Linked DNA regions of Homo sapiens: all the other regions are linked to region 1. The links come from fine-mapping of genetic effects on gene expression. A gene starts in region 1. Each other region holds a variant in brackets. All regions are shown on one strand. Distances are from middle to middle. Region 1 holds the start of NCBP2 (nuclear cap binding protein subunit 2). Region 2 has its middle 100 kb from the start of LINC02012. Region 3 overlaps SENP5 (SUMO specific peptidase 5).

What was found. PIP is the estimated chance that this variant, and not a neighbour inherited with it, causes the effect.
Region 2: its variant is fine-mapped to the expression of NCBP2 in monocytes after interferon gamma (Fairfax 2014, PIP 0.95).
Region 3: its variant is fine-mapped to the expression of NCBP2 in whole blood (INTERVAL, PIP 0.97).

The regions. Positions count from the first base shown.
Region 1 is chr3:196,937,595-196,945,867 of GRCh38, reverse strand. NCBP2 (nuclear cap binding protein subunit 2) reads left to right here and starts at 3,340. Exons shown (of 4, transcript NM_007362.5): 1 at 3,340-3,442; 2 at 6,436-6,617; 3 at 8,220-8,273. The coding sequence starts at 3,365. NCBP2AS2 (NCBP2 antisense 2 (head to head)) reads right to left here and starts at 3,194. Exons shown (of 1, transcript NM_001355243.2): 1 at 2,325-3,194. The coding sequence starts at 3,151. The coding sequence ends at 2,852. NCBP2-AS1 (NCBP2 antisense RNA 1) reads right to left here and starts at 5,991. Exons shown (of 3, transcript NR_046630.1): 1 at 5,741-5,991; 2 at 4,726-4,894; 3 at 3,334-3,475. RefSeq lists enhancers at 1,313-1,986, 2,737-2,896, 2,661-3,334, 3,117-3,416, 3,467-3,606 and 2 more.
Region 2 is chr3:197,402,153-197,410,425 of GRCh38, reverse strand. No RefSeq gene overlaps it. Among named protein-coding and RNA genes, the nearest start is that of LINC02012, 100 kb to the left of the region's middle. RefSeq lists an enhancer at 1-733. The variant A/TTTTA (reference allele first, on the strand shown) is at 4,971.
Region 3 is chr3:196,903,505-196,911,504 of GRCh38, reverse strand. It overlaps SENP5 (SUMO specific peptidase 5), which reads right to left. Exons shown (of 10, transcript NM_152699.5): 6 at 7,895-7,972. Among named protein-coding and RNA genes, the nearest start is that of NCBP2-AS1, 32 kb to the left of the region's middle. The variant C/T (reference allele first, on the strand shown) is at 4,256.

The DNA.
Region 1 (8,273 bases):
CTCAGCTAGTGTCTGGTTACCAGCCTCAATTTTTCCGATGGCTTCAAGCTTTCTAGATTGCATGATTAACTGTGCTGCCTAACTAGAAATGATCAGAGCTGGGTGTGGTGGCTCACACCAGTAATCCCAGCACTTTGGGAGGCGGAAGCAGGAGAACTGCTTGAGGCCAGGAGTTCAAGACCAGCCTGGGCAACAAAGTGCAATGCCATTTCAACCAAAAACAAAACAAAACAAAATTGTGGCTGGGCGCGGTGGCTCACACCTGTAACCCCAGCACTTTGGGAGGCCGAGGTGGGCAGATCACAAGGTCAGGAGATCGAGACCATCCTGGCCAACGTGGTGAAACTCCGTTTCTACTAAAATACAAAAAATTAGCCAGGCATGGTGGCACGCACCTGTAGTCCCAGCTGCTCAGGAGGATGAGGCAGGGGAATCACTTGAACCCGGGAGGTGGAGGTTGCAGTGAGCCGAGATCGCACCACTGCACTCCAGCCTGGTGACAGAGTAAGGCTCCGTCTCAAAAAAACAAAAAAAACAGAAAAAAAGTTTTTAATTAGCTGGGCATAGTGTCATGGGCCCGTAATCCCAGCTACTTGGGAGTCCCAGGGAGGAAGATCGCTTGGCCCAACGGGTCGAGGTTGCAGTGACAGCTAGTATTGTGCCACTGCACTCCAGCCTGGGCAAGAGTTAGGTCCTGTCTCAAAAAAAAAATCAGAAATTTAGCTAGGAGCTTCAAATGACAGGACATTTCTATATACAATGGATTTCCTAATCGCAGGTCTGCTAACTGGCTGGATCGTAGTCTGTCTGTATCCCTGACCCTCTAAAATGAGGGGTAGTGAAGGGGTGGGTTGCCCCTCCACACCTGTGGGTGTTTCTCGTTAGGTGGAAGGAGAGACTTGGAAAAGAAAGAGACACAAAGTATAGAGAAAGAAAAAAGGGAGCCCAGGGGGCCGGCATTCAGCAGACGAGGATCCCGCCGGCCTCTGAGTTCCCTTAGTATTTATTCATCATTCTTGGGTGTTTCTCGGAGAGGGGGATGTGTCAGGGTCATAAGATAATAGTGGAGAGAAGGTCAGCAGATAAACACGTGAACAAAGGTCTCTGTGTCATAGACAAGGTAAAGAACTAAGTGCTGTGCTTTAGATATGCATACACATAAACATCTCAATGCCTTACAGAGCAGTATTGCTGCCCCCATGTCCCACCTCCAGCCCTAAGGCGGTTTTCCCCTAACTCAGTAGATGGAACATACAATCGGGTTTTACACCATTGCCCAGGGACGGGCAGGAGACAGATGCCTTCCTCTTGTTTCAACGGCAAAGAGGCGTTCCTTCTTCTTTCACTAATCCTTCTCAGCACAGACCCTTTACGGGTGTCACGCTGTGAGGGACGGTCAGGTCTTTCCCTTCCCACGAGGCCATATTTCAGACTATCACATGGGGAGAAACCTTGGACAATACCTGGCTTTCCTAGGCAGAGGTCCCTGTGGGCTTCCGCAGTGTTTGTGTCCCTCGGTACTTGAGATTAGGGAGTGGTGATGACTCTTAACGAGCATGCTGCCTTCAAGCATCTGTTTAACAAAGCACATCTTGCACCGCCCTTAATCCATTTAACCCTGAGTGGACACAGCACATGTTTCAGAGAGCAGGGGGTTGGGGGTGGGGTTACAGATTAACAGCATCTCAAGGCAGAAGAATTTTTCTCAGTACAGAACAAAATGGAGTCTCCTATGTCTACTTCTTTCTACACAGACACAGTAACAATCTGATCTCTCTTTTCCCCACAGGATAGGAGTCCAGGTAACTTGTTCCATGGCAGGCAGTAGTCTTTTTTTTTTTTTTTTTTTTTTTTGAGAAAGGTTCTCGCTATGCTACCCAGGCTGGTCTCATCTCAGGCTCATGCGATCCTCCTGCCTCTGCAGTGGCTGGGATAAGACACAACTGCCACCAGGCCCTGCCCCTAGGCAGTAGTCTTAATGCCTGATGGTGGGGGGTTGGGGAAGGAAGGGGTTGAGTATCAGGGTAAATGCTGCAGAGCTGTGTTAAGGACTTAGGCCCTGGAGTCAAATGCCTCTGCTCACATCCCACTCTGCAAGACTTTGGGCAACTTAAGCAGCAGCCTCTGTTTCCATCGCAGTGGCTCTTGCCTATAATCCCAGCACTTTGGGAGGCTGAGGCGGGAGGATCACTTGCGCCCAAGAGTTCGAGACCACCCCATCTCTACAAAAAAATCCAAAAAGTAATCTGCTTCCTCATGTGAATGTCGTTGTAAGGAGTGAGATAACACATAGAGTGCAATGAGCAAGTCCCAGCACAGAAGACTCATTTCATAAAATACGTGTTTATTATTACCATAGGCCTACAGTCCCCGGTATTCTTAACACATCTTGCCTGAGAAGTATCACACTCATGCCTATCAACCAGCTCACACATTTAATCAAAGGAATTTGGCAGCTGTAGGGTTGTCTTTTCATCCATATCGTCCCTGGAATTAACTGTCCTGCTATACCAGTCAGATTGAGCAGCATCTGTCAAGAGTTTCAGTCCCACTTGCAGAGGAAAGGCTCTCTGGCTTCGGTCCGTGGCTCTCCGTAGGTGCCGTGTCTGGACCCAGCCTACCTTCATCTCTGTTAGGCTTAGGGCTGTCTCCACACTGTGTCTTGTCCAATCACAAGACTTCAACGGAGCGGGCGGTCTGGCCTAGGCTCTTATGCGTGGGATGTCTGCAGGCCAACAATCCCAGTCGGGATTCGAAGCCGCGCGCAGTGCCCGGAATGACCCCTCCACATTGATGCCACTGTAGAGCCCGGAAGGAAAAGCAAGCGGCCTCGGCCCCGCACAGCCCAGGATTAAATGTTTGCGCCAGGGCCCCTCTGGCTACCTGGTGGTGGCCCCGAGCGGCCTCGGAGGCCGCGGCGTAGCTCCTGGGTGAAGGCGTCTCTAAATCGCTCAGCGCGGCGGCACAGGGAGCCCACGGGCCCAGCCGCGAGGTCCTGCAGGCGGCGGGCCGCGTCCTGGCCCCGCAGCTGGGCCTGCAGCAGTGCGAAGGCCGTGAGCTGCGCCGCACGTCGGATAGGCCGCGACTCTGACAGACGTTCCACCAGCTGCGGGCTGTGCAGCAGGGCGGCCAGCAGCCGCCGCAGCACCATCTTCTCCAAGCGCCCGGAACCCGACCTCGCCGCCCTCGTCTTCCGCCCCGCGGCGCCCGACCCGGACGTCTATGCCCCCGCGCAGCTTGATGACGACACGCCGCCCTCGGATTGGGTCCAATGAGATGCTCGCCTCCGCGCGTTTCCGCTTCCGCCATCGCGGACGCAGCCTCGTGCCGGGAGTCGCCGCATTGTGGTCCGCTTCTCTGCACTATGTCGGGTGGCCTCCTGAAGGCGCTGCGCAGCGACTCCTACGTGGAGCTGAGCCAGTACCGGGACCAGCACTTCCGGGTGAGGGAGGCCGGGCCGCGAGACGGGAAGGCCCTGGGCAAGAACGCTGAGAAACGGTTTGCTCTTGTCTCATTGTGTCGCCTCCCATTCAGCTGAAATCCGCAAACGCCAAGTGGGGCCCCGGTGCCTGCTGGCGAGGCAGGGAATGGGTGCTGGAAGGGCGCTTGGATATCACTGAAGCCACTTGCTCTGGAAGACGGGGAACTGGAGGCTCGCTTATCCCATTCGCTCGCAGCCGCTCCCTGTACCCCAGCCAGTGCCGAGAGGTTTGAGCGGTGGTGGTGGTGGCGGCTCCCGTTTCCACGGTTGTGCCTCCGCAGACGACTACGTAGCAAGGGGGAGGGGTGCCCTTCTCTCTCCCAGAGTAGGCAGAGGCGCCTTCCTGATGCAGATGCGGGGCTTTTTGCTTTGTTTTTTAAATCGGCGAAGCAGTGCCCTTCGGCGATTCGGGCCCCTTCTCTGGGAGGATGGTGTTACGGAAGCTGTACGCGGTGCGTGGGAGACACAAGTGGAGTCCTCACTCCGCCCTCGGGGAAGCTTCGGAGTGGGGAGGTGGACCCGCCAAGCTCGGCACTTTGAGGGTGTTCGGATGTAAAGATCGGAGAATTGCTGGATTTCAGAAGAGGGAAATTTTTAGTCCGGACTATATCACAGTATATTTTGTGGAAAAAGGGGAGGCAGCAGATATTCAAAGTAGACTTTTCAGTATCAGCGGAGGTAGGGATGGAATACGGTTGGGGGTTGGCGGGGCGGGACTCATTAACCCAATTATTTAGTAAACGTTTATCGAGTGCTGTCGCCAAATCCTTGTGCTAAACCCTAGAGGGAGAGGGAAGACAGTTTCTGCGCTCTGCGAGCTCATAATCCCCTGTAGTGAGGATTCAGAAAAGGGAAAAATCCCCTTGTGACTGGGAAAGGAAGGGGCGCATATAGCAGAGGGTAAGTGTGGAGAATGTGTGAAATGTGTTACTAGAGTAGGGAAAGGGAAATTTTGTTTGACGCTAAATTAGGGAAGCTCTTAGATTTATTTAGTCAAGGCTGGGAACGGTGGCTCACGCCTGTAATCCCAGCACTTTGGGAGGCTGAGGCGGGTGGATCACGAGGTTAGGAGTTCAAGACTAGCCTGGCCAAGATGGTGAAACCCCGTCTTACTAAAAATACAAAAATTAGGCGGGCGTGGTGGCAGGCGCTTGTAATCCCAGCTATTCGGGAGGCTGAGGCAGGAGAATCGCTTGAACCGGGGAGGTGGAGGTTGCTGTGAGATCGCGCCACTGCACTCCAGCCTGGGCAACAGAGCGATATTCCTTCTCAAAAAAAAAAAATTTATTCAGTTAATGTATTTTATTTTTTGAGACAGAGTCTCGCTTTATTGCCTAGGCTGAAGTGCAGTGGCGCAATCACGGCTCACGCAGCCTCAACCTCCTGAGCCTAAGTGATCCTACCCACCTCAGCCTCCTGAGAAGCTGGGACCACAGGCTCGCGCCACCACATCCAGCTAATTTTTTGTAGAGACAGGGTCTCCCTGTGTTGCTCAGGCCAGTCTCGAACTCTGGGACTCAAGCGATCCACCTGCCTGGGGCTTCCCAAAGTGCTGGGATGCCTAAGTGCCAGGCATGATTTGCACTTCTACCACTTTTAGTTACTACTTTAGACAGTTCCACATCCTGACCATTTTGAACTTAAAGCATCCTGTGAGATGAAAACTGGAACCTTCTGACTTTGTCTATTATTCATCTCCTCAGTCTAAACCTGTAGCTTTTTTTAGATGCTAATGCCATACTGTCATGTGGAATTTCTAGCATTCTGTGAATGGAATCCATATTAATATACTTTAAGCACTTACACCACAGTTATCTTAAACTGTAGGCTATTTATTTGGATCTTACTTACATGTGTGAGAAAAGTAGAAAAAGAAGATGCCTCCTTTCCATGTTCACAAATCAGTAACAGCAGTAAAATGAAAGGAATTTACTTTCTCTAATGTCTCACTCCAAAGTTCCGAAAACCTCTTTTTAACATACAATGACTATTGTCCTGTGGACTTTTTTTTTTTGAGATAGAGTTTCACTCTTGTTGTCCAGGCTCAAGTGCAGTGGTGCAATCTCAGCTCCCTGCAACCTCCACCTCCCAGGTTCAAGCGATTCTCCTGCTTCAGCCTCCCGAGTAGCTGGGATTACAGGCGCCCGCTGCTACCATGCCCAGCTAATTTTTGTATTTTTAGTAGAGACAGGGTTTCATTCACTATGTTAGCCAGGCTGGTCTCAAACTCTTGACCTCAGGCGATCCACTCGCCTCAGCCTCCCAAAGTGCTGGGATTACAGGCATGAGCCACCGCGCCTGACCCCGATGAGCCATTTTGGACCCAGGGCTTTGTCTGTCAGGTGTGTTGGATGAAGCCCAGTTATATGCTTAAGTCTCTGGCTTCATCCTGTCATCCCAATTTGGAAGCCCATTAAGAAAGTGAGCTCTGTTTTGTTTTTAGTGATCACTACATTTTCCCCTAAACTCAGAGAAAGATCTATGAGCACGTAAAGCATCAAGGTTGTGGCTTTCAACAGTCTCTAGGGGGTTATTAAAGAGGAACTCTCTCTCTCTCTGAAAACCCACTTATTTTTCACTACGAAGGATAAAAGGGCCCTTTGTCATATATTGGGTCAAGGTCCAGAGTCTACACTTGGGTTTAAAGGATGCACTGCTGAGGATATGGTGTGTGCAGGGAAAAGGGAAGCCGCTTGCGTGGCAGTCGGGCGTAGAAGTGACTTTGTTGTATGTGGTATAACTTTTGAGCCCTGTCTCTACTAAGAGTCTGGACTTCGCATAAGTGCTTCACAGAAGGTCGACATCCCCCTTTTTGGGCAAGGGATTTCTGGTAGGCTGGGATGAGAGAAGTTGATTTCCAAACCAGAATTAATGAATGTCTCTACCGTACTTAGAAATACTATTTAAGCAAGGCTCTGAAGTTGCTTAACTTTTGTCTCTATTTGAAATTCTAGGGTGACAATGAAGAACAAGAAAAATTACTGAAGAAAAGCTGTACGTTATATGTTGGAAATCTTTCTTTTTACACAACTGAAGAACAAATCTATGAACTCTTCAGCAAAAGTGGTGACATAAAGAAAATCATTATGGGTCTGGATAAAATGAAGAAAACAGCATGTGGATTCTGTTTTGTGGAGTATCCTTCCCATGGATCTAATGTAGCTGCTGAACCAGGGTAGAGCTGAGAGTGGTAGCTCATAAGCGTCCCTGCACTCGTCCCTACGTTTTCCTTCATCTCCCTCCTACTTTCCACCCAGTGTGTCTCTGCCCTTATACTGTAAAGCTGATACTATTTATATTCTCTTCTGAAATCCATGCTTTATGGTTCTTTAACAAAAAGTTTTTCAAGAATGTTTGCCCTTCACGTAAAAAAAAAAAAATTCCAAAGAATGTAGTGAAAATATAAAAATCTCGTACTGTTCTAAACCCCTAATGCCCTTTGCCAGAGGCAGTCAGTTACCAGTTTCTTGGGCGTCTTTCAAGAAGTAACCCTGTGGGTGTGCGGTAGTGTATTTCATGTGCTGTTTTTAAAATCATTTTTTTATTTTTTATTGTTCCATTTCAGCATATGTAGGTCTTTTTTTAAAATAGCTGTACAGCTGGGCATGGTGGCTGGTGTTTGTAGTGCCAGCTGCTCAGGAAGCTGAGGCAGGAGGATCAGTTGAGCCCAAGATTTCAAGGCTGCACTGAGTTGTGACTGTGTTCCAGCGGGGGTGACGGGTTAAGACCCCATCTTTAAAGAAAAAAACTTTTAAGTAAATAGCTGTATAGTATTTCATTATATAGATGTATATAACCTGACTGTATAGGTACAAACCAAAACTATTTACTTTGATCATTTAATTCCCTTACTCAGACTCTTTTAAGTATTGGACCTCTTGGATTTATCCTATGTTCTTTTTACTGTATGTTTTGGTCATTCAATTTAATATTCTGAGAAATTTTGCAGGCCCAATTTAATATATCTTTTGAATTTTTTCCTGTGCCCTGAATTATGTTTGTTTCGGTTGAAATTTTTCCTTAAGTGTCTGGTGATCCCTGGATTTCTGCTCATAATTAAGGAAAAGAATGCTGACTCACTGGACCCAGGCAGGGCTTCTCTCCCAGATTGCAGGCTTGCCTCGGGGATACACAGGTTTCCCAAATGCTAGAATGAAAAGAGATTTTATTTTGGCTTGCTAACATCAAAGATACTAGTTTCTCCAGATGGTTTATTCAGAACACTGTTGTCTTATTTTTATTTGTCTGAGATTAAATGTCTTCCCCTTTAATTAAAGGGAGGTCTCTGATGAAGTAGGTTTGGGAACTGCTACCTTGGTGACAGCTTGAGTCTTTCCTTTAGTGAAGTGCAGCACAATTCCACGTGCACGGTGACCTTCTCTTGATTAGGGTGCCTTGGAATGTACAGAACCTAACTTGAATATACAGCACTGGTTTCTTGGATAAGAAGTGTACAGTGATCTAAACTTGCAAACCAAAATACAGAGATGATGGGACCAAAAATTATCAACAGGAATGTCCAAGAAATATGATCAGTGTAGCCATGGATACGTGTCATATTTGACTCTATGTGCTTCCAAACCAATCGCAAACAGGCCTGGGCAAGCTGAATTACTGTCTTTGAACTCCATCTGGTTGGATTAGCTCTTGTACTTTTTAACAACTCAGCTTCATTTACATGTTGTTCCCCTATTTCCAGAAATGTTTGGAAAAATGCTAGTGTTCCTTAATACTTAAGATATTACTCACGCGCAGATGCGGAAAACGCCATGCGGTACATAAATGGGACGCG
Region 2 (8,273 bases), 460 kb before region 1:
TCCACCCAGATGGAGCTTCCCAGCCGCTTTGTTTACCTAATCAAACAACTAACTGGGCAATGGCGGGCGCCCCTCCCCCAGCCTTGCTGCCGCCTTGCAGTTTGATCTCGGACTGCTGTGCTAGCAATGAGCGAGACTCCATGGGCGTAGGACCTTCGGAGCCATGTGCGGGATATAATCTCCTGGTGTGCTGTTTTTTAAGCCTGTTGGAAAAGCGCAGTATTAGGGTGGGAGTGACCCGATTTTCCAGATGCTGTCTGTCACCCCTTTCTTTGACTACGAAAGGGAATTCCCTGACCCCTTGTGCTTCCTGGGTGAGGCGATGCCTCGCCCTGCTTTGGCTCGCACATGGTGCGCTGCACCCACTGTCCTGCACGTACTGTCTGGCGCTTCCCAGTGAGATGAACCCGGTACCTTAGTTGGAAATGCAGAAATCACCCGTCTTCTGTGTCGCTCACGCTGGGAGCTGTAGACCGGAGCTGTTCCTATTCAGCCATTCCTGCATTCTTTTAAAGCAATGAAGGTGTTGTAAGGATTGCAAATCAGACATCTCTATAAGAAGGACCATTTGGGGACACATGAATTTGGCAAACAAATTCAGGAAAGAAGGCTCTGCCTCAGCAGGGAAGGTGCAGACCTGTGGCAGCCAGGATGTCTCTTCTGGAGCATGGTTGGTGGGTCATGTCCAGTTACTATGCTGCCCTCAGGATTGGCCTAAGGTGTGAGTTTAGGAGGCGAGGGATATGGTGTGGTAGGATGACATTTTTGAGATGGACACTTCAGGTTGTCATGGAATCCGCAAGAACAAGATACCACAGTCTCCTGTGGTCTCAATATCAGTGTGAGGAGGTTGCGTCCTGGGCCTAATCTCAGCTGTCCCCATCCCGAGTACTGTCGTTAAACCATTGGCTTTTATTTTGGGTGCCCTCAATGGAGAGAATGAAGAATGGATCATGACCAGTTCCCACGTTCCAACAGCCTTAGCTCCACCAGAAACATGCCAAACTGGAAACTGGTTTGTCATGGGGATTGACAAAATGCTGATCAAACCCACAAGAGATGGCAAGATTATTCAATATAGACACTAGAGAGTTAGCATTGGAAGGACTCACTGGCCTTATAGAGGGGACCGTGAGCCAAGGGAAGCGACTTTCTCCATGTCACACACTAGTTAATGCCAAAGGTAGAATGAGAACCCAGAAACCCCAACTCTCAAATCAGTGCGCTTTCTACCACCCTTTGCTGTCAAATCTCAATGAGAACAAGAATGTGTGTATAAGATGTTCAATATATTCTCTTTTCAGAAAAGAAGGCTACTTGGGGAAATAACATCACTAATAGAAAGTTTTTGGAATGTGTAGAGGGCCAGTCCAGGGTATGTGCTGGAGAGAAATAGGTGAAGCTAAAATCAGAGTTGCAAGGAGCCACGCTGGGAAATCAACCCAGAGAGACACTTTGCTCCCCACAGTGGGAGTATAGAAGACTAGAACAGCTGGGACAGTCAATAGCTCCATGGATGGTCAAGGAAGGAAAGAAGTGGGGCTCCAAGAGGAACCTATGTCCCTGAATTAGACGTGTACTCTTCTGAGAAAGGACAGAGAAACCAACAGAGGGAAAAGTTAATCCCTGCTTAACTGTTCTTTGTTCCTGGACACAAGCTGAAGCAAGTAAGAAGAATTTCCATCCCACAACCCCCAGTGAGAAAGGGCTGGTCAGTTGATCCATTTAACCTACTGCCAGCCCGGAGAGGAGACCCGCAGGGAATTAAAGGGACACTGCCATTTTATGGGGCAAAAACCCCAGCTGCCAGAATGAAGCTGCAATTGTGTGGGTTCCCAGGTCAGTCCTGTGCCACCGTTGGGAGGAAAGATTCCCTTGATGCCAGACATGAGGCAGAGTTCCCAGGGGCTGTGGGTAGGATATGGCTGCTCCCTCCCTGACTCTCCAGAAAATTATAAGCAGGGAAACTTGAACTTGGGTCTTGAATACGCTCATTTTGTGTATCAGTGTAACCTGAGCACCTAGCAACCGCCAGGGCTTGGTGTCTGGTGACTTCCCCTTCAGCAGCTCTGCAGACTGCCAGAAAGAGCTGACTGCTCCAAGCCCAAGCCAAGCTTCCCTCTAGTTTAAATCAAAGAAAAATGGAGGGTGCCGAGAATGTAATGGGATAAAGGTCAACCCCAGGGCATAGCCCTCCACTCAACACGAGAACCAGAGTCATGTTTGACGAAATTCCCAAAAGACATTCTTCGGAACAAAGAAAATGAGCTAAGAAGATTTCTTAGAAAAGGATGCGTTTTATGTCAAAACAAGGGTGAGACCAGGTGCAGTGGCTCACACCTATAATCCCAGCACTTTGGGAGCCCAAGGCTGGTGGATCACCTGAGGTCAGGAGTTTGAAACCAACCTGGCCAACATGGTGAAACCCTGCCTCTCCTGAAAATACAAAAATTAGCTGGGCCTGGTGGGGCACACCTGTAATTCCAGCTACTCAGGGGCAGAGGCAGGAGAATTGCTTGAACCCAGGAGGTGGAGGTTGCAGTGAGCCAAGATCACACTACTGCACTCCAGCCTGGGCGACAGAGTGAGACTGTCTCAAAAAAAAAGAAAGAAAAAAGCCAGAGTGAGCTAGAGGTTACTGAAGTGGAGCACCAGGGAGCTGCCCAGGAGCCAAACAGTGCCCAGACCCTGGGGAGCCATCTGCCCCCACAGAGGGGGTGGGGGTCAACTCCCTGGTGACATCCTCTACTGAGGTTCCTTCCCCACCTCTTCACAGGGCAGGCTTCGGGCCCATTAGTTGCATTATAGAGACCGGGAATGGAAAACCAAATCTCTCCCTGTGTCCTTCATTCTGGCCTCTGTGCTGGGAAAAGCTCTTCCCACAACACCCTCTGTTCATTCCCAGATCCTGAACAACAGAGTTGAGAAGCAAGATTACGAAAAGGCACAGTTACCCCCTCACGGACTATCTGAGGCTGGACTTGAGCAGTTCTAGAGGCCCACACAAAGAGAGGACTAGCAGATAAAAGGACACGGTGCCGGCACGCCCACCACTGAGGAAGCAGTAGCAGGCACCAGTTTCTTTCCAAACACATCCTGGGTTGGAGAGGACTTGGTGGTGGCCCGAAGCCGTGAAGCTCTGCCCGAGGAGCTCCCAGAGCCCTCTGGGGATCGCACCTCGCTACCCGTCAGAGTGATGTATCGAGTATCCACTCTGTGCCTCCACAGGCAGGCCTCGGGAGGAAGCACAGTCCATGGGTACAGAATTACCTTCTCATGGGAAAATAGACAGTCAGTCAAAAATTACAGGCGCAGCGAGTGTTGTGAAGGAGGCGTGAGGGAGCAATGGGGGCGGCTCATGGAGCACTGAGGGTCTGGAAAGGCCTCCCCAAGGAAGTGACATAAACCCGAGACCTGAGGATGTAAGGGAATTAGACAAACAAATAGGGGAGATCGTGCGGACTTTGAATTGTCCCTCAAAGTCCATCTCCTCGGGCCAGGCATGGTGGCTCAAGCCTGTAATCCCAGCACTTTGGGAGGCCAAGGCGGGTAGATCACCTGAGATCAGGAGTTGGAGACCAGCCTGGCCAACATGGTGAAACACCGTCTGTACTAAAAATACAAAAATCAGCCAGGCGTGGTGGCAGTCGCCTATAATCCCAGCTACTCAGGAGGCTGAGGCAGAAGAATGCTTGAACCCAGGAGGTGGAGGTTGCAGTGAGCTGAGATCGCGCCACTGCACTCCAGCCTGGGCGACAGAGTGAGACTCCATCTAAAAAAAAAAAAAGTCCATTTCCTCTTCTTTCATAATCACAGAATTTTTAGTTGAGTATAGGCTTCCCAGAAAACAGCTGCATTTCCCAGCCTCTCTTAGAGGTGGATGTGACGCTGGACCCTAACAGGAAGAGGGAGGAAGCGTGTAGACAGTGCTGGGTTATGTGGACAGGGTTGCCCTCCCTCGGCCCCCCGCCCCTTCTGCTGGCTGGCATGTGGTCCTGGCAGGGAGCCATCTTGGAGCAGGCTAAGGAAGCCAGTAAGACAGAAGAAGCGGGGCTCTGATGACCTCACAGGCCAGAGCAGCCACACCAGCGTGGGGCTTCATGTGAGAGAAAAATAAATTCTATTTCGTTTAAGCCATTATTATTTTGGTCTCTGTTACAGAAACCAAAGCAGTGTCCTGACTAATACACAGTCTGAGGGAACAGCAAAGTGCTCCTGCAAATCTTCTTAACCGCATTTCATCTTCCCAAGAACCCAGTACGGAGGAGATTATTATCATTATTTTAGTGTTACAGAAACTGATGCTGAGAGGGATCGTTGTCTTGTCCAAGGTCACACAGTGGCAGAGCCCGGGACTCAGAACTCAAGGCTTCTTCATGCCAATCCAGGAGCATCCACGATGCTACGCCGCCTCCATTTCTCTAGGCTGGGTTTGGTTGCTTCCTCCGTTAGTGAGGTGAGTTTTTACCAAACCATCCACACTCTTTTTTTTTTTTTTTTTTGAGACGGAGTTTCGCTCTTGTTGCCCAGGCTGGAGTAGTGCAATGGCACGATCTTGGTTCACCGCAACCTCCGCCTCCCGGGTTCAAGAAATTCTCCTGCCTCAGCTTCCCGAGTAGCTGGGATTACAGGCGCGCACCACCACACCTGGCTAATTTTGTATTTTTAGTAGAGATGAGGTTTCTCCATGTTGGTCAGGCTGGTCTTGAACTCCCAACCTCAAGTGATCCGCCCGCCTCAGCCTCCCAAAGTGCTGGGATTACAGGAGTGAGCCACCGCACCCGGCCTCCATCCACACTCTTAACTTGATCCGCCACCCCCATGCCAGTCCACTCAGTGACACATGGTCCTAATGGCACATGCACCACGGACAGGAGGCTAATTTCCTGCATGAAGTGATGATTTAGGGGCAGGGATACAAGACGACTGGCACTTTCTCAGAAAATAGCTTACTTTTTTTTTTTTTTTTT[A/TTTTA]GCGAAGTCTCGTTCTTGTCCCCCAGGCTGGAGTGCAATGGCACGATGGTGCAATCTCGGCTCACTGCAACCTCCGCCTCCTGGGTTCAAATGATTCTCCTGCCTCAGCCTCCCAAGTAGCTGGGATTATAGGCGCCCGCCACCACACCCAGCTAATTTTTGTATTTTTAGTAGAGACAGGGTTTCACCATGTTGGCCAGGCTTATCTCGAACTCCTGACCTCAGTTGATCCGCCCACCTCGTAGGATTACAGGTGTGAGCCACCCCGCCCGGCCAATATTTTACACTTTATTCTAAAGGTAGTGTTTGGAAGAGTCCCATTCTCCCCCGTTCCCACCCCACCCCTGCCACTTTACCAGCCCCACTTTGTGCAAAGGATGCAGGAATTCTTGAAGACACCAGCACTCGGAGAGCCCTGGGGGCCGCAGCTCCTTCCTTAGTGCAAGTTTCTTCTCTCCTTATTTTGAGTCTAGGCTTCTTAGCGGGAGCAGCCTGGCTCCTCTGGGATCTCCCTGGGAAGCTGTGTCAGAACAGTTCTGTGATTTTATCTTTTGTCAGCCCTTTGACCGATTGCATATGGGAAATTGCAGGCTAAGCCATGTTCACACAAATCCTTAGCCCGTGTTCTCCTACTGAGGCGCTCCTCAAGTTATGAATCACCTCTGGGGTATAGCATTTGAAAAATTAAGGTCTTAAAATATTGATTTTATTCCTCACAGCCAGGAGATAGCTTTACACATGATTTGGTTGATTGGCCCATTGTGTGGCTCAGGTGCTTGTAACTTGCAAATTTAACAGAGCCTTTTGTCTGCAGAAGACTGAAGCAGCCAGGGAGACAGTGCTGCTCACACCCGGAATCCAAGCACTTGGGGAGGCCGACTAGCCTCAAGTGATCCTCCCACCTCAGCCTCCCAAAGTGCTGGAATTACAGGTGTGAGCCACCAACCGTGCAAGCCTAATCCATTTTCTAAAGTGCTGTAAGAACAATCTTCTAAAACGCAAAAAATCTGATTATCCTGGGAGTTTGGAATTCTTTCAATGGCTCCCTCATGGCCTCATCACGGTCAAGTCCAAATTCCTTAGCAGCCCTATAAGGCCCTTCCCGATCTGGCCCCACCTCCACCGCTCCCCCTCCCTCCACTCCCTGCTCTCCCCAGGTGCTATGCAGTACCTGCAAACGGCCTGTCCTCACCCTTCGGGCTCTGCCCCTGTTGCTCCCTCCACCTAGAATGGCCTTCCTTCATCTCCTTACCCGGACAGTTTCCTCGGGACCCCGTTCAGGCGTCTTCTCTTCCAAGTGGCTTTCCTGACCATCCCACCCTGCACAGCACCCTTGTCACCCTGTCAGAGTCACCTGCGGCCTCGTGATTTCCATGTGCATCTCCTCATCTAGTCGGGGAGCACCTTCAAGGCAGGAGCTGTGTCTCATTTGTCTTGACCTAGAGTCTGGCAGCACACCTGGCACAGAGTAGGTGCTCATTCAATGTTGGTTGAAACAGTGAGGCTCTGTGGAGCCCTAGGTGTCATGGTCGTTTCCTCCCAAGATTGCTGTCACTTCTATTTCACTAAGTTTTTGTATTGATAAAATATCAGGCAAGACTAATTTAATCCCATGAAAGCAGATACTTCATTTTTTTTCTGTGGGAGTGTTAATATATTAATTCATTTAGCCATCCATTCATCCGTCAGTCACTTCATTTAACGAATATGGGCCGGGCATGGTGGCTCACGCCTGTAATCCCTGCACTCTGGGAGGCTGAGGTGGGCGGATCACTTGAGGTCAGGAGTTGGAGACCAGCCTGGCCAACGTGGTGAAACCCCGTCTCCACTAAAAAATACAAAAATTAGCCAGGCATATGGTGGGCACTTGTAATCTCAGCTACTTGGGAGGCTGAGGCAGGAGAATCACTTGAACCCAGGAGGTGGAGGTTGCAGTGAGCCAAGATCATGCCGCTGCACTCCAGCCTGGGCAACAAGAGCGAATAAATAAATAAAATGAATCTAAGTAAATAAATAAATAAGAAATGCATCCTCTAGGCCAGACCCTGTGCTAAGCATTAGGGTTATAAAGCTAAATAAAACTCAGTCCCTGTCCTCAAAGAGCTGACAGTTCATTGGGAAACAGACACGCAGACATACCATGACAGAATGATGTGGCTGACATCACAGTGCATGAGGGAGGTGGTGGAGAAGGGAAGGTAATGGATGATCCCTCACAGTGGAGAAGGGAAGGTAACGAATGCTGGGTTAGGGGCCTGTCCTTTGAGGTTCTGCTACTCACATTCTCTCATGGCTCCTAGATTAGAATTGCCTATAGTTCTGTTCCCCCACTCCCATTACACTAAGAGTTCCTTGAGGACAGAGACTATGTTATCCACCTTCGTATTCATTCATTTATTCAACAAATATGTATTAAATGCCTACTGCACAGAAAGCCCTTTTAGGTGCTGTGGTTACCACATGAAGCAAGTTAGACTGACCTCTCTGCCTTCGTGGAGTTTACAAGGTGCCTGCCTCCGTGCTGGAAACATGGCAGGCTCTAGAGAGATATTTGTTAAAGGAATAAACAGTGGATTCAGAGGGATGTGAGTGTGGTCCTCAATCATCTGGAGAGCTGTGTGGGAAGAGGAACACACATGTTCAAGGATGTTTTAAAGGGCAGAGTGGGGCCAGTGCGGGGACATTGCATGGTGACTGGTCTGGGGAAATGAGGAAGAATTTCTGTTAGTAAAAGTTGTTCGATATTATGATATAGTGACAGTAAATGATAACACAGGCCAGGCACGGTGGCTTATGCCTATAATCCCAGACTTTGGGAGGCCAAGGTGGGTGGATCACCTGAGGTCAGGAGTTCGAGACCAACCTGACCAACATGGAGAAATCCCGTCTCTACTAAAAATACAAAATTAGCTGGGTGTGTTGGCGCATGCGTGTAATCCCAGCTACTCAGGAGGCTGAGGCAGGAGAATAGCTTGATCCTGGGGGAAGGAGTCTGTGGTGAGCTGAGATTGTGCCACTGCACTCCAGCCTGGGTAACAAGAGCGAAACTCCGTCTCAGAAAAAAAAAAAAAAAAAAGATAACACAGAGGCTTGTAGAAGAAATTTCTACAGTGAGTTCAAGGAGGTTAAGCCAAATGACCTACAGGTCCTTTCCAAATCTGGAATTTTATTGTTGAAAACATTGAAGTTTGTCCAAAATGTTCAGCCATCAAGATATATGGCAAACTGGCTATTGACTTTGGAACTTTTCTCTAGTAAGGGAAACAAGCAAACACTGTCACCCATAACAGTTTCACAGCAATT
Region 3 (8,000 bases), 34 kb after region 1:
GCTCACTGCAACTTCCACTTCCCAGGTCAAGCAATTCTCCTGTCTCAGCCTCTCGAGTAGCTGAGACTACAGACATAAATGTCTTCTTTTGCGAAGTGTCTGTTCATATCCTTTGCCCACTTTCTGATGGTTTATTTTTCTTGTAAATCTGCTTAAGTTCCTTGTAGATTCTGGATATTAGATCTTTGTCAGGTGGGTAGACTGCAAAAATTTTATCCAATTCTATAGGTTGCCTGTTCACTCTGATGATAGTTTCTTTTGCTGAGCAGAAACTCTTTAGTTTAATTAGAATCCATGTTGGCTTTTGCTGCAATTGCTTTTGGTGTTTTTGTCATGAAGTCTTTGCCCACGCCTATGTCCTGAATGGTACTGCCTAGGTTTTCTTCTAGGGTTTTTACGATTTTGTGTTTTACAATTAAGTCTTTAATTCATCTTGAGTTAATTTTTGTATAAGGTGTAAGGAAGGGGTCCAGTTTCAGTTTTCTGCATATGGCTAGCCAGTTTTCCCAGCATCATTTATTAAATAGGGAATCCTTTCCCCATTGCTTTTGTCGGGTTTGTCAATGATGAGATGGTTGTGTATGTGTGGTGTTATTTCTGAGGTCTCTGTTCTGTTCCATTGGTCTATATGCCTGTTTTGGTACCAATACCACGTTGTTTTGGCTACTGTAGCCTTGTAGTATAGTTTGAAGTTAGGTATGTGATGCCTACAGCTTTGTTCTTTTTGCTTAGGATTGTCTTGGCTATACAGGCTCTTTTTTGTTTCCATATGAATTTTAAAGTAGTTTTTTCTAATTCTGTGAAGAATGCCAATGGTAGTTTGATGGGAATAGCATTAAATCTATTAATTACTTTGGGCAGCCAGGAGTGGTGGCTCACATCTATAATCCCAGCACTCTGGAAGGCCGAGGCAGGCGGATCACGAGGTCAGGACATCGAGACCATCCTGGCTAACACGGCGAAACCCTGTGTCTACTAAAAATACAAAAAATTAGCTGGGCATGGTGGTGCATGCCTGTAGTCCCACCTACTCGGGAGGCTGAGGCAGGAGAATTGCTTGAACCCGGGAAGTGGAGGTTGCAGTGAGCCACGATCATGCCACTGCATTCCAGCCTGGGCAATGGAGCGAGACTCCATCTCAAAAAAAAAAAAAAAAAAAAAAAAAAAAAGATTACTTTGGGCAGTATGGCCATTTTCAAGATACTGGTTCTTCCTATCCACGAGGATGGAATATTTTTCCATTTGTTTGTGTCCTCTCTTACTTCCTTGAGCAGTGGTTTGTAGTTCTCCTTGAAGAGGTCCTTCACATCCCTTATAAACTGTATTCCTAGGTATTTTATTCTCTTTGTAGCAATTGTGAATGGGGGTTCATTCATGATTTGGCTCTCTGCTTGTCCATTGCTGGCGTATAGGAATGCTTGTGATTTCTGCACATTGATTTTGTATCCTGAGACTTTGCTAAAGTTTCTTATCAACGTAAGGGGTTTTGGGGCTGAGACGATGGCATTTTCTAAATATAGAATCATGCCATCTGCAAGAGACAATTTGACTTCCTCTCTTTCTATCTGAATACCCTGTATTTCTTTCTCTTGCCTGATTGCCCTGGCCAGAACTTCCAATATTATGTTGAATAGAAGTGATGGGAGAGGGCATCCTTGTCTTGTGCCAGTTTTCAAAGGGAATGTTTCCAGCTTTTGCCCACTGATATTGGCTATGGGTTTGTCATAAATAGCTCTTATTATTGAGATATGTTTGATGAATACCTAGTTTATTGAGAGTTTTTAAATGAAGGGATGCTGAATTTTATCGAAGGTCTTTTCTGCATCTACTGAAATAATCATGTGGTTTTCGTCACTGGTTCTGTTTATATGACGGATTATGTTTACTGATTTGCATATGTTGAATCAGCCTTGCATCCCAGGGATGAAGCCAACTTGATCATGGTGGATAAGCTTTTTGATGTGCTGCTGGATTTGGTTTGCCAGCATTTTATTGAGAATTTTTCGCACCGATGTTCATCAGGGATATTGGCCTGAAATTTTCTTTTTTTGTGTCTCTGCCAGGTTTTGGTATCAGGATGATGCCGGCCTCATAAAATGAGCTAGGGAGGAGTTCCTCCTTTTCAATTGTTATGAAATAGTTTCAGAAGGAATGGTATCAGCTCCTCTTTGTACCTCTGGTAGAATTTGGCTGTGAATCCATCTGGTCCTGGGCTTTTTGTGGTTGGTAGGCTATTAATTACTGCCTCAATTTCAGAATTTGTTATTGGTCTATTCAGACATTCCACTTCTTCCTGATTTAGTCTTGGGAAGGTGTATGTGTCCAGGAATTTATCCGTTTCTTCTAGATTTTCTAGTTTATTTGTGTAGAGGTCTTTATAGTATTCTCTGATAGTAATTTGTATATTTCTGTGGGGTCAATGGTGATATCCCCTTTATCATTTTTTATTGTGTCTATTTGATTCTTCTCTCTTTTCTTCTTTAGTTTAGCTAGAGGTATTTTTTGTTAATTTTTTCAAAAAATCCAGCTCCTGGATTCACTGATTTTTTGAAGGGTTTTTTTGTGTTTCTATCTCCTTCAGTTCTGCTCTGATCTTAGTTATTTCTTGTTTTCTGCTAGCTTTTGGATTTGTTTGCTCTTGCTTCTCTATTTCCTTGTTGTTGTTTTTGTTTGTTTGTTTTGAGACAGAGTTTCACTCTTCTTGCCCAGGCTGGAGTGCAATGGCGCAATCTCAGCTCACCACAACCTCCACCTCCCGGGTTCAAGTGATTCTCCTACCTCGGCCTCCCAAGTAGCTGGGATTACAGGCATGTGCCACCACACCCAGCCAATTTTGTATTTTTAGTAGAGATGGGGTTTCTCCATGTTGGTCAGGCTCATCTCAAACTCCTGACCTCAGGTGATCTACCCGCCTCAGCCTCCCAAAGTGCTGGGATTACAGGCATGAGTCACCACGCCCAGCCGCTTCTCTAGTTCTTTTAATTGTGATGTCAGGATGTTGATCTGAGATCTTTCCAGCTTTTCGATGTGGGCATTTAGTGCTATAAACTTCCCTCTTAACACTGCTTTAGCTGTGTCCCAGAGATTCTGGTACATTGTCTCTCTGTTCTCATTGGTTTCAAAGAACTTCTTGATTTCTGCCTTAATTTCTTTATTTACCCAGGAGTTATTCAGGAACAGGTTGTTTAACTTTCCTGTAGTTGCCTTTTTTATTTGTTTTAAATTGAGACAAGGTCTCAGTCTGTCACCCAGGCAGGAGTGCAGTGGCGTGATCAGGGTTCACTGCAGCCTCGACCTCCCAGGCTCAAGTGATCCTCCCACCGCAGCCTTCTGGATAACTGGGACCACAGGCTGCCACCATGGCCAGCTAAGTTTTTTAAATTTTTTATAGAAACGGGGTCTCGCTTGGTTGCCTAGGCTGATTTGAAACTCTTGGGCTCAAGCAATCCTCCCATCTACAGTAATTTTAGGCCTCCCAAAGTGTTCAGACTGCAGATGTGAGACACAGCGCCCAGCCTCTTTAAATGTCACTTCATTTTCAACCTTTCTTTTTCATATTATTTTATGTATACTTCTTATATTCAGCATAAACCTGGGTTTTTTTTTTTTTTACTTAACCCAATCTCAGAGGATCTACAGCAAGCTTGTCCAGTCCACAGCCCACGGGCAGCATGCAGCCCAGGACGGCTCTGAATGCAGCCGAACACAAATTTGTAGACTTTCTTTTATGAGATCTTTTTTGCAATTTTTTTTGTTTTAGCTCATCAGCTATTGTTAGTGTTGGTGTATTTTATGTGTGGCCCAAGACAACTCTTCTTCTTCCAGTGAGGCTCAGGGAAGCCAAAAGATTGGACACCCCTGATCTAGAGGAAGGAATAATTTAGTTTATTATTTAATGAAACAACTCACATATTTGACTTTATTCTTTCACTCTCATGTTTATCATTCAGATACTTTTCCATGAATGTATATTTTTTGCCCACACTGCTTGTAATTTTTCCCACCCCAAATGGAATATAAGCATCTTCCATTATCTTTTTTTTTTTTTTTTGAGACGGAGTCTCTCTGTCGCCCAGGCTGGAGTGCAGTGGTGCGATCTTGGCTCACTGCAAGCTCCGCCTCCTGGGTTCAGTCTCCTGAGTAAGTGGGACTACAGGCATCCGTCACCACGCCCGGCTAATTTTTTTGTATTTTTAATAGAGATGGGGTTTCACCGTGTTAGCCAGGATGGTCTCTATCTCCTGACCTCGTGATC[C/T]GCCTGCCTCGGCCCCTCAAAGTGCTGGGATTACTGATGTGAGCCACTGTGCCCGGCCCATCGTTCATTATCTACACAGCTTTTCCTGCTTAAGTAGCATCCAATTATATGACTGTACATTTTAAATTTGAACAATCCTCTACTAGTTGTCCTACATTTTTCTAATGTAAATACAACCATAGGCCGTCCAGTCATACAAGTCACATACTTGGAAGTCATCTTTCACACTTCCTTGTCCTTCATCTCCATAACCAACTTATCACCAAATCCTGTTAATTTTACTTCCTACATCACACTCATCTTCCATCTCTCCTGCTATCATTCTACTTCAAAGTACCATGAATCTGAAATGGTCTCCTGTTCTGCCCACATCAACTTTGCTCCCATACCCATCCATCTTCTTCAGTACTGTTAGAACAAAGACTACAAAGTGGATAATGTCACTAAAAACCATTCAATGGTTTCCTATTACATTTAGGATAAAATCCAAAATACAAACCTCAAGGCCCTGATCTGTGGATCAGGTACACTTCATGCCACTGTCTTCTTAACTCTCTGCATTTCAGCTACACTAGCCTTTTCCCATTCTTCTACCAGATACTTATTCCTTCTGCCTATGTTTCACATACCCCTATTCTCCATTTACCTAGTTAACTTGTATTCATCTTTGATATTTCTGCTTAAATATTACTTCCTATGAGAAACATTCCCTTACCCTCAGGCTAGGTTAACCAAACCTGCATTCCAATACACTCCTGTAGTACTTTTCTTTTGTACCCACTAAACAAATAATTACACCACCAAAAATATAAATACAAACTGTGGTAGGTGCTGTCTCCACCACTAGACTGCAGACTTTGTGAAAGCAAAAACTGTCTCTAATATTGTTTTACTTACCTCTTTATTTCTTGATTTACTATAATGTCTGGCACTATGATACTGTAAAATAATAAATTTGGTCTTTGACCTCATTTCCTGGCATACAACTCCCTAAAGTCCTTGGAATTTCTGATGTCTTTTTTTCTTTTTTTTTAGAAAGTCTTGCTCTGTCACCCAGGCTGGAGTGCAGTGGTGCAATCTCGGCTCACAGCAACCTCCACCTCCTGGGTTCAAACGATTCTCCTGTCTCAGCCTCCCAAGTAGCTGGGACTACAGGCACATGCCACCATACCCAGCTAATTTTTGTATTTTCAGTAGAGACAGGGTTCCACCATGTTGGCCAGGCTGATCTTGAACTCCTGACCTCAAGTGATCTGCCTGCCTCAGACTTCCAAAGTGCTGGGATTACGGGGACATGACCCAGGCCCAAAGTGATGTCTTTTTGTATGTTGATGATTAACTGATGGCTGGCAGCTGCTAGGTGGCTTTAGGATAAGAGCAAGGCAGAATTAGAGGATTGTGACTTTCAGCCCCACCCAACCCCCCAACCACCAGGGAGAGAAGAGAAGCTAAAGGTTAACCAATGGTCACTGGTTTAGTCAATCGCCTATGTAATGAAGCCTCCATAAAAACTGACTGCACTGGGAGAGCTTCTGGATACTAAATATGTGGAGGTTCCTGGAGGGTGATGTGCCTGTGGAGGTCCTAGAGAATCCCTGTGCCCACTCCCCTACATCTCTTCCCATGCATCTCTTCATCTGAATCCTTTGTAATATCCTATATAATAAACTGCTAAATGTAGGTAAGAACTTCCCAGAATTCTGTGAACCGCTCCGGCAAATTAATCAAATTCAAGGAGGGCGGCATGGGAACCCTCACTTGAAGTCTGTTGGTCAGAAGTTTCAGAAGCCTGGACTTGCAACTGGTGTCTGAAGTGGGTGGGGGGCACTCTTGAGGCATGAGCCCTCAAACTATGGGACGTGGCACTGTCTCCAGGTAGACAGGTCGGAATTGAATTAGAGGGCATCCAGCCAGTGGTCGCTGCAGAACTGCTTGCTTGCTTGCTTTGGTCACAGAAGTCTTCTGTGCTGACTACTGTTGTGGTGTGACAGCAAAGGAAAAAAGTTTTTCCATATAGGCACATAACAGGTACTCAATAAATGTTTAATGCCGGGCACGGTGGCTTACCCTGTAATCCCAACACTTTGGGAGGCTGAGGCGGGCAGATCACCTGCCTGAGGTCAGGAGTTAGAGACCAGCCTGGCCAACATAGTGAAATCCCGTCTCTATTAAAAATACAAGAATTAGCCGGGTACGGTGGCAGGTGACTGTAATCCCAGCTGCACAGGAGGCTGAAGCAGGAGAATCGCTTGAACCCAGGAGGCAGAGGTTGCAGTGAGCGAAGATAGCGCCTGAAAGACTCCATCTCAAAAAATAAATCAATAAATAAATGATGAATGAATGAATCAATGTTGCTAAGGACAATCCTATCTATCATTTACACACACACTCATACACACTCCTTGCCTGCTGCTTAAACCCTCTAATGTCTTCATTTTTATTTTTTATTTAATTTTCTTTTGACATGGAGTCTCGCTCTGTCACCAAGGCTGGAGTGCAATAGTGCAATCTCGGCTCACTGCAACCTCCACCTCCCATGTTCAAGCGATTCTCCCACCTCAGCCTCCCAAGTAGCTGGGGTTACAGGCGCCCACCATCACAGCCCGGCTAATTTTTGCATTTTCAGTAGAGATAGGGTTTCGCCACATTGGCCAGGCTGATCTCAAACTCCTGACCTTCAGTGATCCGCCCACCTCAGCCTCCCAAAGTGCTGGGATTACAGGCGTGAGCCACCGCACCTGGCCTAAACTCTCTAATGTCTTCAAATTGCCCTCATGATCCAAACTCTTTACCAGGGCCTATATGGCGCCACATGACTTGATCCCTGCCTCCTTCCCTGATCTCATGTGTGTAATACTCCAATATACCAAACTCACTTCTGCTTCAGGGCCTTTAACATTCACTCTTCCATCTACTGGGAATGCTCCTCTGATCTTCACAGTTTTCAGTGAAATGGGATCTCTTCAAAGAGGCCTTTGCTGACAAGCCTATCTAAAAGAACTAGCCCATCTTCCTCCTGCTACCCTATCCCAGTTACCTTGTATTCTCATACTGTGTTCTGATGTTTCCATAGCAAATAGCACTTACCACTCTCTGACTAGAGTACATCATACATAGTAAATTAGGTACATGGTTTTTGGAAATTATTTCAATTACATGTATGTATAAGATTTTATGAATAGATTGTGATATAAAAGTTATTTCTCCTGATGGATCAGTTAACATTTTAAGAGACAGGATCTGGCTATGTTGCCCAAGCTGGCCTCAAATGCTTGTGCTCAAGTGATCCTCTGGTCTCAGCATCCCAAGTAGCTGGGACAACAGGTGCGAGGCACCGTGCCCAGCACCAGCAAAAAATTGTTGAAAGCTTCTGCTGTCTGCTGACAAGCCTACCAGATAACACCAAATGATGGCAGCTCCTTCTTTATCATCCCACTGTTCTACCACTATAATTGGGACCAGTAGGCAATTAAGGTCTTTCAAACAATAAGATTTAAAAGAAACAAATTTAAAACTTGTCACATTAAAAAGTCTGTTTCTACTTAACATCGTATTGGCATTAAAGTACTTATCCTTCCACACAAAGTGGTTTATCATCTGCGTTTCAAATTTGGAATAAAAAAGAAATAAAGAGAATACCTTTTTAGTCCATCTTTTTACTCCATTATATCCTTTGGTTACCAGCTGTCTATGAAAAAAGCTGTTGAAGAAGTGAACCTAGAACAGACAACAAACACAAGCAACC